Linked DNA regions of Homo sapiens. The protein of the gene in region 2 purifies or fractionates together with the protein of the main gene of each other region. This does not show direct contact. Each region holds a gene or a part of one and is shown on either strand. Other genes may lie near its edges.

Region 1 (3,500 bases), on a different chromosome or scaffold from region 2:
AGCTCCTTGGCTTCCTTCTTCTGGTTTCGCGCCTCATACTCCAACCTGAGAGGGCAGGGTAAGTCTAGCAGAGAGCGCCCATGAGGCGGCTCCGAGGGGGAGGGCACGGTAAGTCTAGCGGAGAGCGCCCATGAGGCGGCTCCGAGGTGCCCCCACCCAACTGCACCTGTTGGTGATGATCCGCTGGACGATGAGGTCTGTGGTGAGGTTGCTGCCACTGTCAATCTGACGGAAGATGCCCCTTCTCTTGGGCTCCTGGGGGTCCAGAGAGGAGGAGCGGGATGAAGGTCCCTGCTGACCTCCCCAAGACCCATCTGATGCCCTGCCCCAGAGGGAGACCAGCGCCCAGGGTCCCATGGGAGTGGTGCAGTCGGAGCAGCTGCGCCACCATGCCCGTTTCCCAGGCAGGCACAGTGAGTCATTAAATGGCTGGGAGGTGCCAATGGCAACCCCTGTGCCCAGCAAGGGCCAGCATGACCCACCTGGTATGGGTCGGAGCCATCCCTGTCAGGGATAATTTCTGTCTTGCCGTGACACACCAGGTCCACCTGGAGAAGGAGTGGGGTCAGGAGCCCTCCCCGGGGAGGCAGCGGCCGTCGCCACCCACAGCCCAGCACAGGCCCCGGGGGTTGGGAGAGCTGACCCTGCCCTTTCCTCAGCCCAGGTACCTCCTGGGCCCCGCCTAGGAGCCCACAGCCAGCCTGCATTCCCAGCCCATGCAGGAACAGAGGTGAACAGAGGGAACGAGGTGAGCCCATGCGGAGCCTCACCTTGAAGTGACTTAGGAGCTCTGCTGTGACCGCGTACGGGGCTCCAATCACCACTTCTGACACGTACTGTGGGGACAGTGGGGGCAGAAAGACTTGCTCGGTCCCTGCTACTGGTAAGCCAGGGCCACAGGGTGGTGAGAGACGGCTCAGACATGGGGCGGGGCTGCCAGTGAGTAGCAGGGATGGGCTGGGCAGGCTGGGGACCCCTGGGGCTCCTCCATGAGACAAGAAGGAACAGCATCTGGAGACCTGACCACCCCTCCTCATGCCTCAACAAACAGGTATGGGCAGGTGCCACAGAACTCGGGGTGCTGGGTGCAGCTCTGCCAGTGACCCAAGCCCCCCTGCCCTGGCTCAGGGAGGCCCTTAGTAGGGGGGATGTTGTGGGAATGTCTCCCCATCCTTGGGCTGGCTCCTGGCCCCCACTCACCCGGCAGGCCAGCACGCTCAGAGTCCGTTCATGCAGATTCATGATGGGGTAGTTCTTCCCCTTGTAGTGATTGACCTCCTGCGGCCAGAGTGCGGCTAGCTCAGCCCGGAGACTTTTTGGGGGGACAGGGTGTGCCCCTCCCGGCTGTCCCTCATGGGAAGAAGTCGGGGAGGTTGCTCGCCCTTGTGGGGATGCCCCAGACAGGACAGCCCTGGACCCCAGAAGCCTACGATCACCCCCCAGGGTCTCCTGTGACTTCACCTGGGGCCCCTTCCCAGAGACCACCTGCACCTAACAGCAACGCTTAGGGCCCCTCGAGGGCCCATCAGCTGCCCAGGGGCCCAGGGAGCAAGAAGGCAGTGACCTGGTCAAAGTGTAAGCCCGCGATGATGTAGGGCCTCTCTGCCAGCCTGTGCACCTTCTCCAGGAAGTCCACATGCCCGATGTCTGCACCCAGGTTAAGAAGCAGTCGGGATGGGGATGACAGGGAGCAGCTCCCTGACAGCTCATGCCCAAGGGCCTCCCCGCCATCCTCCCTGCTGACAGCTGCTCCCCTGCAAACCAGCCAGCCCAGTCTGGGGGCCCCAAGGAGTCAAGTGAGGCCCCCGGGTCCCACCCCATGTGGCACATGTAGGGGAGCAGCAGAGGCCCAGAGGATACGGAACAGGTCGAAGGCACCAGCCACATAGATGACTGTCTCCCCTGGCTGGGGCTCCTTCCCAGAAGCAAACTGGATGATCTTCTGAGATGTCTGCAGGAACTGGGATACCCCGGTCCAGGGGTTCCGCCCACCAGGGCACTGCAAGCCAAGAGAGGGAGCAGGTTGGCGGGGGAGGCCTCCCAGGTGCTGCCCTCACCAGGTCACCAAACCCTCAGCTGTCACCTGCCAGCAATCCCATTTCCAGCCAGTCATCTCGGGCAGGGGACACACTGCCAGGCCAGGTGGCAGGTGGGACTGTGGCGCCACCCCACAACCACAGCAGGCACCGCAGCAGACACCACTTCAGCCCAGCAAGCGACCACCAGGAGGAGGCAAGGAGCCCTGTGGCAGGTGCACACAGCCCTTGGGAGGGACCTGGTACCCTGAGACCACTGTCTGGTCACCTGGGAGCAGCCTTCTGAGGAAAGTATGTCCCCGGCGGGTATCGGGTGAGGGGGCTACAATGGGAGAGAGGGCCAGGCCACTTGGTTAGAGGCCACCTGTCCACAGGCAAATCCTTGCTCCTCCAAGCAGTGGCTGCCGTGACCGGCCAGCCGGTGCCACCACCCGCCTGCCCTCCCTCCCAGCATCCACCAGTGAGCCAAACCTGGCAGTCAGTGCCTGGTCAGTGCCAGGGACAGAGGGAGGAGGGTGAGGCTCTGGGCTGGCCTTTCCCCAAGGGATGGCTGGGACAGGTGGCCGGGGGAGCCCCCTGCAGCTGCGTGCTCAGCTCTCCCTGCACAGCCGCACTCACCTTGCCAAAACTGTCTGCATACTCCCGGTACTCAGAGGACATCTCCTGCACAGAAGGTCAGAGCAGGGCTGAGGGGCCTGCCCTCCCGGCGTGGCCACCCCAGAACCGGCTGGGGATGGGGAGCAGTGGGCAGGAGGACCCTGAGAGGGCAGGGAGGTGCCCCTCCTTTCCCCTGGAGACCTCGACCCAGGGGCCTCGGGGATTCCGCCGCCGACTCACCTGGCTGCTGTGATGGGCTTTGGTTACCAGCAGCATGCGGCCCACGAGGTCTGTGGTGGACACCCCTTGCGTGCGCTTGCATTCTCTGGGGGACACAGTGGGAGTGGGGTCTCATCCTGGGACACTCGCAAGGCTCTGCCTCCTGCTACCACCACTAGGGACACTAGCAGCCCTGCTGTGGCAGAACCCACGGCTGCCCCAAAGACTGAGGGTCCCCTTCCTGTGCAAGGCCATAACAGAAAACCTGGGTTGGGAACATGGGGAAGGCCTCCACGCTTTTATTGACTGAAGGGAGTGGCAGGAGCACAGAAAAGGACCCTTGCTGGGGCCCAGGTGTGCAATGCCAGGGAGAGGATGGGCACTGGGGTAGCAGCTCTGCTTCCTGCCTCCCTCACACCCACGTCCTGCCCGCTGAGCATCTGCAGCTGAGTGAATTCTCAGCTGCAGCATCTCATGCGGGAGCCACTGGCCTCATGTCCCTGACGTCTGGTAATTCAGATATAGTGCCAGCTCCCCAGCAGTGCCAGCCACGTCCCCCGAGCTCAACAGCTGCCACCTCACAAAGCTGTGCCTTTGGAGCCCTGGGGCCATGGGTCTGCAGCACCAAATGGCAAGGGCCTCCAGGCC
Region 2 (3,500 bases):
TACTCCATGGATTGTGATCATAGCTAAATATTTAGCACAGTGGTATAGTGAAGTATGTCCTTTTTTAAAAAAAATTTCATATGCAACTGTATTTTCAGTTTCTTACAAAGGATTTCCTTGATGGGGAATGGGAGATTAATTTTTTTTCCTTATGGAGTTGTATGGTAGGGCAAATGGATGCTTTTAAATTTAAATCTAGCAGTTCCTCTTTTGATCCTGATAATTTTAATTAAAATGAAATTCAATAAATGTCATTATGAAACTGGCAGGGGGAATGAATGTAGATAAATGGTCACAGTGTCTGTTTTCTATCAAGTGAGCCTCTGATTTCACAGAGAAATATATTTGTTGATGAAATCTTATGTAGAGAATGGGGGACACTTTAGACTTTCAATTTCTGTATTTTGAATTTTAATAACTAGATTTTTAAAATTTTTAACCAATTTAGACAAATGGACGAATACCTAAAACGTATAAAGAAAAAGAGGACTTCAGAGATTTGATTAGACAAGGTAATATGGGATATGATTAAATACTGTATAAAGCTTGAAAAGCAAATTGCTAGAGGCAGGTACTTATTGGATTTCTGTTAACACCTTTGTCAGATGATAGCATCATGAGCTTTTATTTTCCTTCTGGAGAAGTTAAGAAGCCACGCCTTGTATAGTTTTAAGGACTAATGATAAGCCGTATTTCTTCTTAAGATTTAATATTCTGCAGGATCTGACAAGGTTATTTTTATAATGGGGGAACAGAAGAGTGAAAAGAAAAGGGCTGTTTGCTAACAATTTCCCATTACAATAGGAATTCTAAAAAATGAAAATGGGGCTCCAGAAGATGAAGAGAATTTTGAAGAAGCTATTAAAAATGTGAACACAGCACTAAATACAACTCAGGTAATGAAAGAGTTGCTGAGGGATTCACATGAACAAGATGTTTTCTAGAGTCCTTGGCTATTAAATGGTTGACTATAATGATTTAAGTTAATATTTTCTAAATGTATAGTTAGAAATAAATACAGGGCCGGGCATGCTGGCTCATCCCAGCACTTTGGGAGGCTGAGGCGGGTGGATCACCTGAGGTCAGGAGTTCGAGACCAGCCTGGCCAACATAGTGAAACCGCGTCTCTACTAAAAATACAAAAATTAGCTGGGCATGGTGAACATACCTGTAATCCCAGCTATTCGGGAGGCTGAGGCAGGAGAATCACTTGAACCCAGGAGGCAGAGGTTATAGTGAGCCAAGATTACACCACTGCACTCCAGCCTGGGCAACAGAGTAAGACTCCGCCTCAGATGCCTTTGGTTTTGTTATGGCTTAGTTGTTGAGGTCTGACCATTGAAGTTTTTGGGGAGCTTTGGAATAACACCTGGTAGTTTAAGTTAGAATTTTCTTGTAACTTAAAACAGCAAATATGCTGCCTTTCAAGTTAGGAAGGCACGTAAGATATTATTACCAACTTTTTAGAGACAACAAGGCAGTGTTGCTGAGTGATTAAAAGTGTGCTGGCTGGGGCCAGGCGCGGTGGCTCACACCTGTAATCCCAACACTTTTGGGAGGCCGAGGAGGGCAGATCACATGAAGTCAGGAGTCCAAGACGAGCCTGGCCAACATGGTGAAACCCCATCTCTATTAAAAATACAAAAAATTAGCTGGGCATGGTGGTGGGCACCTGTAATCCCAGCTGCTTGGGAGGCTGAGGCAGGAGAACCGCTTGAACCTGGGAGGTGGAGATTGCAGTGAGCTGAGATCTCATCAGTGTACTCCAGCCTGGGCAACAAGAGCGAGACTCTGTCTCAAAAAAAAAAAAAAAAGTGTTTGCTGGCCAGGTGTGGTGGCTCACACCTGTAATCCCAACACTTTGGGAGGCCAGGGCAGAAAGATTGCTTGAGCCCAGTTCAAGACCAGCCTGGACAACGTAGGGAGATCTTGTCTCTACAAAAAATTTAAAAATTAGATGGGTGTGGTGGCATGCACCTGTAGTCTCAGCTACTCTGGAGCCTAAGGTAGTGGGAGGATCGCTTGAGCCTGGGAGGTTGAGGCTGCAGTGAGCCATGATTGTGCCACTGCACTGCAGCCTGGGCAATGATATGAGACCCTGTGTCCAAAAAATAAATGTGCTTTGTGAATCACTTTTCTGGGGTGATGAACATTTTCTGTTTTAATTGGGGTTATGGTTAAAAATATGTATATATAGTTATCAAAATGCATTGAATTGGACATTTGAAATCTCTGTATTTCACTGAATATAAAACCACAGTTGAAAAGAAAAGATTCTAATAGTTGGGGGGCAGTAAGCTAAATAAACAGATAAAAATGCACCAGGTGCTGTGAACAAAATTACAGCAGAACAAAGGGTCAGAGAGCATGCTGGGGACAAGGGAATCCGGGGTTGAGAGACAATTGTACATAGGGAGCCAGGGAGACTTTCCAAAAGACATTTAAGCAGAAGCCTGAGTGAAGTGACACGCAGAGGTCTGGTGGAAGAGCTTTTCAGTTGGAGGGAGCACATGTGCAAAGGCCCAGAAGTGGGATGAAGCTTGACTTTTGTTCAAGCATCAGTAAGCAAGTCAGTGTGATTGGAGTGAAGTGTAAAAGGGGGAAAAGTGGTAGGAAGGATTTGAGTTTGGAGAGGCAGAAAGGGCCAGATCATAAAGGCCTTGCAGGCTATTTAAGCATTTCAGTCAGGGAAGTGGATTGAGCTGCTTTGTATTCTAAAAGACCATTCTGGCTTTCATGAGGAGAACACAATTGAGGGGACTGGGAGTGGAAGCAGAGAGAGCAGTTAGGAGGTCCCACTGAGACATTTCTTTTTTCCACCCATCAGTAGAATCCAAGCCTATGATTTGTGTGTGTGTGTGTGTGTATTTTTTTTTTTTTTTTTGAGACAGGGTCTCACATTGGTGCCCAGGGTAGAATGCAGTGACACAATCACTGCTCACTGCAGCCTTGACCTCCTGGGCTCAAGTGATCCCCCCACCTCAGCCTCCCAAGTAGCTGGGACCACAGGCACGTGCCACCACGCGCAGCTAATTTACTTTTATGTTTTCTATAGACGGGGTCTTCCTGTTTTGTTCAGGTTGGTCTCAAACTCCTGGGCTCAAATGACCCTCTCACCTTGGCCTCCTGAATGCTGGGATTATAGATATGAGCCATTGTGCTCAGCTTTATACTCTTGATTAACGTATGAAGATCTTGCTAGCAATAAAATTACTTTATGGTTTTAGTTTTTTTCAGAGTGGTTGTCTCAACGGTCACTAATTAGGGTGCAAGGGTTTCAGATTTTTGACAAGATGGAAAATCATGATATACTGCGAGTCTATAATCTGTTTTGTCTTCAGATGTAACTATATAAAATAATTTACTGGGGCCCCTTCTTTACCCCATTTATGGTATAAGAGAATAGGTATTAAATGGTAGCAACAGTGGGCCGGAGAGGTCTTTCTTCCATTCTTTCCCCATCAAATCTTCATATGGTACTGATTCTAAATAAAATTATA
Region 3 (2,699 bases), on a different chromosome or scaffold from region 2:
TCTGCCATTGAACACAAAAGCAGCCTTAAGCATGACAAAAACAAATGAGCATCACTGTTTCAATAAAATTTTATTTATAAAACAGGCATGGGCCAATCCTTGAGCTCAAACTTCCTAAGTTTACATTTTGCATCTTATAGAAAAAAAGCGACAATTTGAAATGAAAAGGAAGCTTCACTACAATGAAGGACTCAATATCAAACTAGCCAGACAATTAATTTCAAAAGACCTACATGATGATGATGAAGATGAAGAAATGTTAGAGACTGCAGATGGAGAAAGCATGAATACGGAAGAATCAAATCAAGGTTAGATGTTTGGAAAATGTCACTGAGACTTTTGTAATGGTCTATGCCTAAGATAATGTACTTTATTTTGCTTTAAACTTGTGAAAAAACAGAAAATTTTGCTGAGATTCGCTTTATTATACCAAATGTTTCTAAAGTTTTAACCCGCATGGCCAATTTCAGAATAATAAAGTTTTTATACCTAGAGTTGATTTGATTTTAGACCATATGTTTTATTATATGGCTTTCTTATGGTTTACTTGCCTTTAGGCAAGGATGTTTGTCTTCATATTAAGCTATATTTTGTTTTGAATATTTTAGGTCATGTTGTATTTGTCATAACGATCTAAAATTTAAAATTTTTAAATGAAACTTTTTTTTTTTTTTTGAGACAGAGTCTCGCTCTGTCACCCAGGCTGGAGTGCAGTGGCGTGATCTCGGCTCACTGCAAGCTCCGCCTCCTGGGTTCCCGCCATTCTCCTGCCTCAGCCTCCCGAGTAGCTGGGATTACAGGCGCCTGCCACCACGCCTGGCTGATTTTTTGTATTTTTAGTAGAGATGGGGTTTCACCATGTTAGCCAGGATGGTCCCAATCTCCTGACCTTGTGATCCGCCCGCCTCGGCCTCCCAAAGTGCTGGGATTACAGGCATGAGCCACCGCGCCCAGCCTGAAACATGTTTTTAGTATGGAAGATTTGGTTTTACATCCCGTTAGATACAAAGTATGTCATATCTTTCCAATACGGATTCTTTTGACTGTTGGATTGACAAGTTATTTAACTGTTTTTGTTTTTATTTTTTTTTTAAGTCTTAGACACCCAGCCCCTGCAGCCTAGCAACTCCTGATCTGTCATAGGAAATAGGTTTTATTTATTTTTTATGAACTGTTACTCTGGTATTTAATGAAGTGAATCTTCTGCATCACTAATGGAGATTTTTTGTGCCCACCACCTACTCCTTGTACTTACAAACTTCATACTTTTCAGTGGAGGCGTAACTGATGTTATTTGTGGTGCCCAGAATGGTTAAGTCTTAGGAAATTAAATAATTATTGTATTACCATTTTGGTAAGCATAGTATTAAATATGAATAATTCTATGATACAGCCTGATGAGTTGCTGTCTCATAGTGTCAGGATTACAGTACTTTTTGTTATTCCGTAATATGCTTCAACCTTTTAGTCTATTTCATATAGCCTTTCATTTCCATTATATATCCCATAGTCTGTTTAACTTATATTTAACTTGAGCAAACTTCATCTTACATAGTAGCTGTGGCATGTTTTTATTATCCATTTTTATTTTTATTTTATTTTTTGTTATAGAGGCAGCGTTTTTTGTTTGTTTGTTTTAACGCCATTTCTTTTGAAAAATAACTATGGCATTTTGTCCGTCTCTGCTTATAAGATATTACATTTCACATATTTAGTACATAAATATATTTTTTGTTTAAGTTTAATGGAGGATTAAAATTTTGTATTAGGTCAGTGCCTGATTTTTCTTCACTGGAGATGAAGTACACCTTGCAAAGGAGTATATCCTGCTTAGCATTATAAAACCCACAAGAATAGGATAAGACTTAGGGAAATAAGTACCTTATTTACCCCCTACCCTTTTTGGGCCCTTAACATTTTACCAGCTTTTCAGATCTCTAAGTTCTATAGAACCCATTAGTTTTGGGACAGTGCCAGTCTCCTCCCTTCCCCCTTTCCTCCCCCATTCACACAATTCATTGGAGAAAATGACATGTTTGGACTCTTAGGTGATATTTTATAGCTTTCAGGTAATAAATATGTATCTTTTTATAGCTCTGGATATTGGAGTTGTCGTAAACTCTTACCTTTCCACCTGTGACTTACAGAAATGTTCAATCTGAAACCTGTTTGTTTTATCAGCAAGTAGACACTTCTGTTCTTTAGACTATTTAGGGGAGTGTATAGATTCTTCAATTTCAGTCTAAATCAGCCTACATGAAATATACCTTATTTGTTTTTAAAATTTTTATATTTGCTTGTCATGCATGCTAATAGAAGGGAACTTTAGCCAGGGTTGACAACATATAACAAATTATGTTGACTTTTTCTTTTATCTTTGCAGGATCTACTCCAAGTGACCAACAGCAAAACAAATTACGAAGTTCATAGACGAGATTTGTTCAACACTGCAATTGTTTGTTAGATGTAAACCCTGTGACTATAGTACGTTGCTTCTTGTTCTTCACAATTCATGACTTAAGTACCAAAATGCATACCAGTTATTATATATTGCCAAGAATTAAATGATAAACTTAGAGACTGATTAGACTGAAAATGCCTAATCGATATATATATTCTTGTGCCTAGTACTTTACCACAAATACAGTGTAATATCATCAGTCCAAAACTGCATTACTTTTGTAAAAACACTGGTTAAT
Region 4 (3,500 bases), on a different chromosome or scaffold from region 2:
TAACCGCTTCCCTCTCTAATAGCTGCTACCCAGAATGATACTGCTGTCTAAAGCAAAGGGCCCAAAAGCCTATGTGTTCTATGGACACTTCCTCCCTTTTGTCTTAGAGACAGTAAAAAGCCTGTCAAGGAAGAGATGATCCCCCTGCCAGCTAGCCCTACCTCCTCACATATGCCAGCAGCTGATCATACTCAGGTGAGGCATTTCTCTCCTTTTTACAGAAAAGGATTGTCTGAAATCCCAATACTAGGAACAGAAATGGGAGAGAAAGAGAGATGGAATGCACAAATAAATGCCAGAGATAAATTTTCTGAGAGATAACCAGATTTGAGAAACAAGTTAGGCATTGTACAGATGAGAAACTGAGGCCCAAATAAGGGAAACGTTTGTATCACAGCGAATTAGTGATAGAGCCAACCCTACAGCCCAAGATTCATGACTTTCTATCCAGGCCCTTTTGACTTCACTAGGCTGTCCCTTTAAAAGTTCTCCAATATAACCTCCATGTGAAGAGAGAATGCAAAGCACAATTATAATTAGAATGCATTTAGTCATTCCAGACTAGCACCATAATCACTTGTGAGCTATGTGAATGTAAGCACATCACTTTAATTGTAGTAAACTTGTATTTAAATATTCCTCAGACTAATTTGTATTTTCACCAATTAAGTATCAATGATTACACTTTGCCATTCAAAGTAAAACAAACACAAAACAAACTCCAGAGAAGTAAGTTCCACCTAAATCTGAAGTTAGATATTCTGAGGATCATTAAGCCCATCTCCCAATTCTCCCAATTCTAGATTATTTTTCTTTACTTTTTTTTTTTTTTTTTAGAGACAGAGTCTTGCTCTGTCACCTAGGCTGGAGTACAGTGGCGTGATCATAGCTCACTGTAACCTTGAACTCCTGGGCTTGAGCAACCCTCCTGGCACAATCTCCTGAGTAGCTGGGACTATAGGTGTGCACCACCATGCCATGCTAATTTTTAAATTTTTTGTAGAGACAGGGTCTCGCTGTGTTACCCAGGCTGGTCTCGAGCCCCTGGGCTCAAGCAATCCTCCCATCTCAGTGTTAGGATTACAGACATGAGCCACCACATCACGTCAACTCCAGCTCAATTAATAATACAAGAAGCACAATGGTATTGGAAAGGGAGCTATCATTTATTACTTCTCTACCATATGCTGGATGCTTTCTTCCAGCTAACACTTTCTTTCCTATTTGTGTTTTCTTATCTTTCTCACCTATTTCGAATTTATCTTTTTGGATTGGACATCCTTATATGCCACTATAATCAGATTTTTGAGTAACAGGTAAGATACAAAACATAACACACTCACAAAAATCCTGTGAGGTAAGTATTAGATATTTCTCGGGGGGAGGGGATGAAGATACCAACCCAGAGAGTTCAATAATTTTCCCAGGGTCTAACTAGGAAAATGAGGATTTTGTGTCCTCATCTGTAAAACATGCCCATACTAATTCATGCACTCACAGAGCTTTGTGATAGTCAAATGCTTATCATAATACTTAGCATACACTGAGTCCTGGATAAATGTTAACTCTCATCTGTATTAGCCACAGACAATAATTTTCCCACTCTATGTAATAAGAACTCAGAAGGTGTACCCAAGCTGTCCTCAAATTTCTAGCCCTCTCCTACCCCTGTCTCCATTCTACTCTTGTCTTTTCTCTCACCAGTCAGAAGTATTCACAGGAATAGAATTAGCTTATTTGAACACTACCTCCTTCTTTTTTTCTTCCTCTCTCCAACCCTGGGGAAGTTCTCATATGGTAGAAGGACACAGAGAGCAAGGAAGAAAGGGAAGCAAGAGGGCCTGGAGAATCCATCAGGGTGATATGCAGCCTAACATCCTGGACAATAACTCAGACCTCCACTTCATCGGAGTCTGGTGGAGAAATAGGATAATGGCCTGTCTGGTGAGGTCCCAGCCTCTGGAAATGGGAGCCTCATTTTTGCTCCTAGAAGTCTGGCCACAGACGGCACATTCCCTTGAATGCTAAAAATGTCTGTAGCTGCCATCTGTTTATTATAGTATACAGTACATCCTTTCTGACAATAATGATTCACAATGAAGGGACACCCCTTGGGTTGGAGATGGGAATGACCTCTTCACTATGGCGAGTAAGCAATTATCTTCATGGCATGCCTGTAGGAGATGAAGCAGCCTCCTACTGCATCCATCAACTCCCATGTTGTCCTAAGTCCCAACATTCTTTTGAGAGAAATGTGCATAGAGCTTACTACCTCAGGGAGAGTAAGTTAGTTTCCTTCTACTAGGAAGCAAAAACATGGGACAGAGGCAGTGTGGTGCAGTGGCAACAATGTGGAGTGCAAATCCCAGCCAAATATCATTTGGGTGCAATTAAGTTATTTAACTTCTGAGCCTCATCATTAAAATGGAGAAGACATCACTTACATGTTTCAGAGTTAAAAGGAAGGCTCCATATGCTAAGATTTTTAAAGCATCTAGCATAGAATATACACCATTTTCTTTTCTCCCTTATTCAGGACCAAAGATAAAATTAATCAGGACCATAGGGTGCAGGCTGCCAAAGTTTAACTTTGCCTCCTTTCATATTAAGTCTGGAATCAGCCTTCATTTTGATCTATCTTGGAGTGAACAGGAAGAGAGATTCTTTGACAAGAGGCAAAAGTCATGGATTGTTGGCATTGTGGTGGAAGCTATTCAGAGAAGGAGAGGAGGCTAAGGAGTCTCCGCCTTACCTGGTCAAATAGCTGCTTCCCGGTGGTGTTGGGCTGGATGGCAAACTCCAGCTCTGCATCCATGGTGGTCACACGCACACTGATCTAGGATGAGATCAAAGGAAGCAGGTTAGTCATCTGGCTCTGTGTTCAACAGAGCCTGAGACAAGTGTCTCTGCTCAACCACAGAGGAAGGAGTTAGGATGCTAAGAGCCTGGGCAACTTAGATACTGATGGGGATGAAGGGAGAATATTGACCCAAACACAACCCCTGCTCCCAAGCAGCTTATTGAAGACAAACAACACAGCCACAGAGCAATACTTACCAAAGAACAGACAAGCATGAAGGCCGGGTGCAATGCCTCATGCCTGTAATCCCAGCACTTTGGGAGGCCGAGGTGGGTGGATTGCTTGAGGCCAGGAGTTCGAGACCAGCCTGGGTAACATGGCAAAACCCCATCTCTACTAAAAATACAAAAATTATCCGGGCATGGTGGTGCACACCTGTAGTTCAAGCTACTTGGGAGGCTGGGGTATGAGAATCACTGGAACCCAGAAGGTAGAGGTTGCAGTGAGCCGAGATCACACCACTGCACTCCAACCTGGGCAACAGAGCGAGACTTTGTCTCAAAAAAATTTTTAAAAAAGAATGCAGATCAGCCTACAACTAAGAGCAGGCAAATGATAACTGTACTTCTTCCAGGAAGGCCTTTCCATCTATACTAGACAGCTTCATCTCACAGGGTTCTCTTCTCACCTCTGATCTACC

What was found.
Region 1: the proteins of NAE1 (region 2) and PCYT2 fractionate together in Homo sapiens (co-fractionation; one large-scale study listed by BioGRID). This does not show direct contact.
Region 3: the proteins of NAE1 (region 2) and PPP1R2 fractionate together in Homo sapiens (co-fractionation; one large-scale study listed by BioGRID). This does not show direct contact.
Region 4: the proteins of NAE1 (region 2) and MSN fractionate together in Homo sapiens (co-fractionation; one large-scale study listed by BioGRID). This does not show direct contact.

Annotation. Positions count from the first base shown.
Region 1 is NC_000017.11:81,904,900-81,908,399, forward strand, and holds part of PCYT2 (ethanolamine-phosphate cytidylyltransferase), read right to left. Parts: intron 2,959-3,500; coding exon 2,874-2,958; intron 2,700-2,873; coding exon 2,655-2,699; intron 2,359-2,654; coding exon of another isoform or gene 2,305-2,358; intron 2,000-2,304; coding exon 1,861-1,999; intron 1,648-1,860; coding exon 1,565-1,647; intron 1,279-1,564; coding exon 1,201-1,278; intron 837-1,200; coding exon 771-836; intron 549-770; coding exon 483-548; intron 256-482; coding exon 167-255; intron 46-166; coding exon 1-45. UniProt on the Homo sapiens protein: Ethanolamine-phosphate cytidylyltransferase that catalyzes the second step in the synthesis of phosphatidylethanolamine (PE) from ethanolamine via the CDP-ethanolamine pathway.
Region 2 is NC_000016.10:66,813,977-66,817,476, reverse strand, and holds part of NAE1 (NEDD8-activating enzyme E1 regulatory subunit), read left to right. Parts: coding exon 1-52; intron 53-448; coding exon 449-512; intron 513-804; coding exon 805-896; intron 897-3,500. UniProt on the Homo sapiens protein: Regulatory subunit of the dimeric UBA3-NAE1 E1 enzyme. E1 activates NEDD8 by first adenylating its C-terminal glycine residue with ATP, thereafter linking this residue to the side chain of the catalytic cysteine, yielding a NEDD8-UBA3 thioester and free AMP.
Region 3 is NC_000003.12:195,516,627-195,519,325, reverse strand, and holds part of PPP1R2 (protein phosphatase inhibitor 2), read left to right. Parts: intron 1-140; coding exon 141-308; intron 309-2,383; coding exon 2,384-2,430; 3' UTR 2,431-2,699. UniProt on the Homo sapiens protein: Inhibitor of protein-phosphatase 1.
Region 4 is NC_000023.11:65,716,154-65,719,653, reverse strand, and holds part of MSN (moesin), read right to left. Parts: intron 2,837-3,500; coding exon 2,753-2,836; intron 1-2,752. UniProt on the Homo sapiens protein: Ezrin-radixin-moesin (ERM) family protein that connects the actin cytoskeleton to the plasma membrane and thereby regulates the structure and function of specific domains of the cell cortex.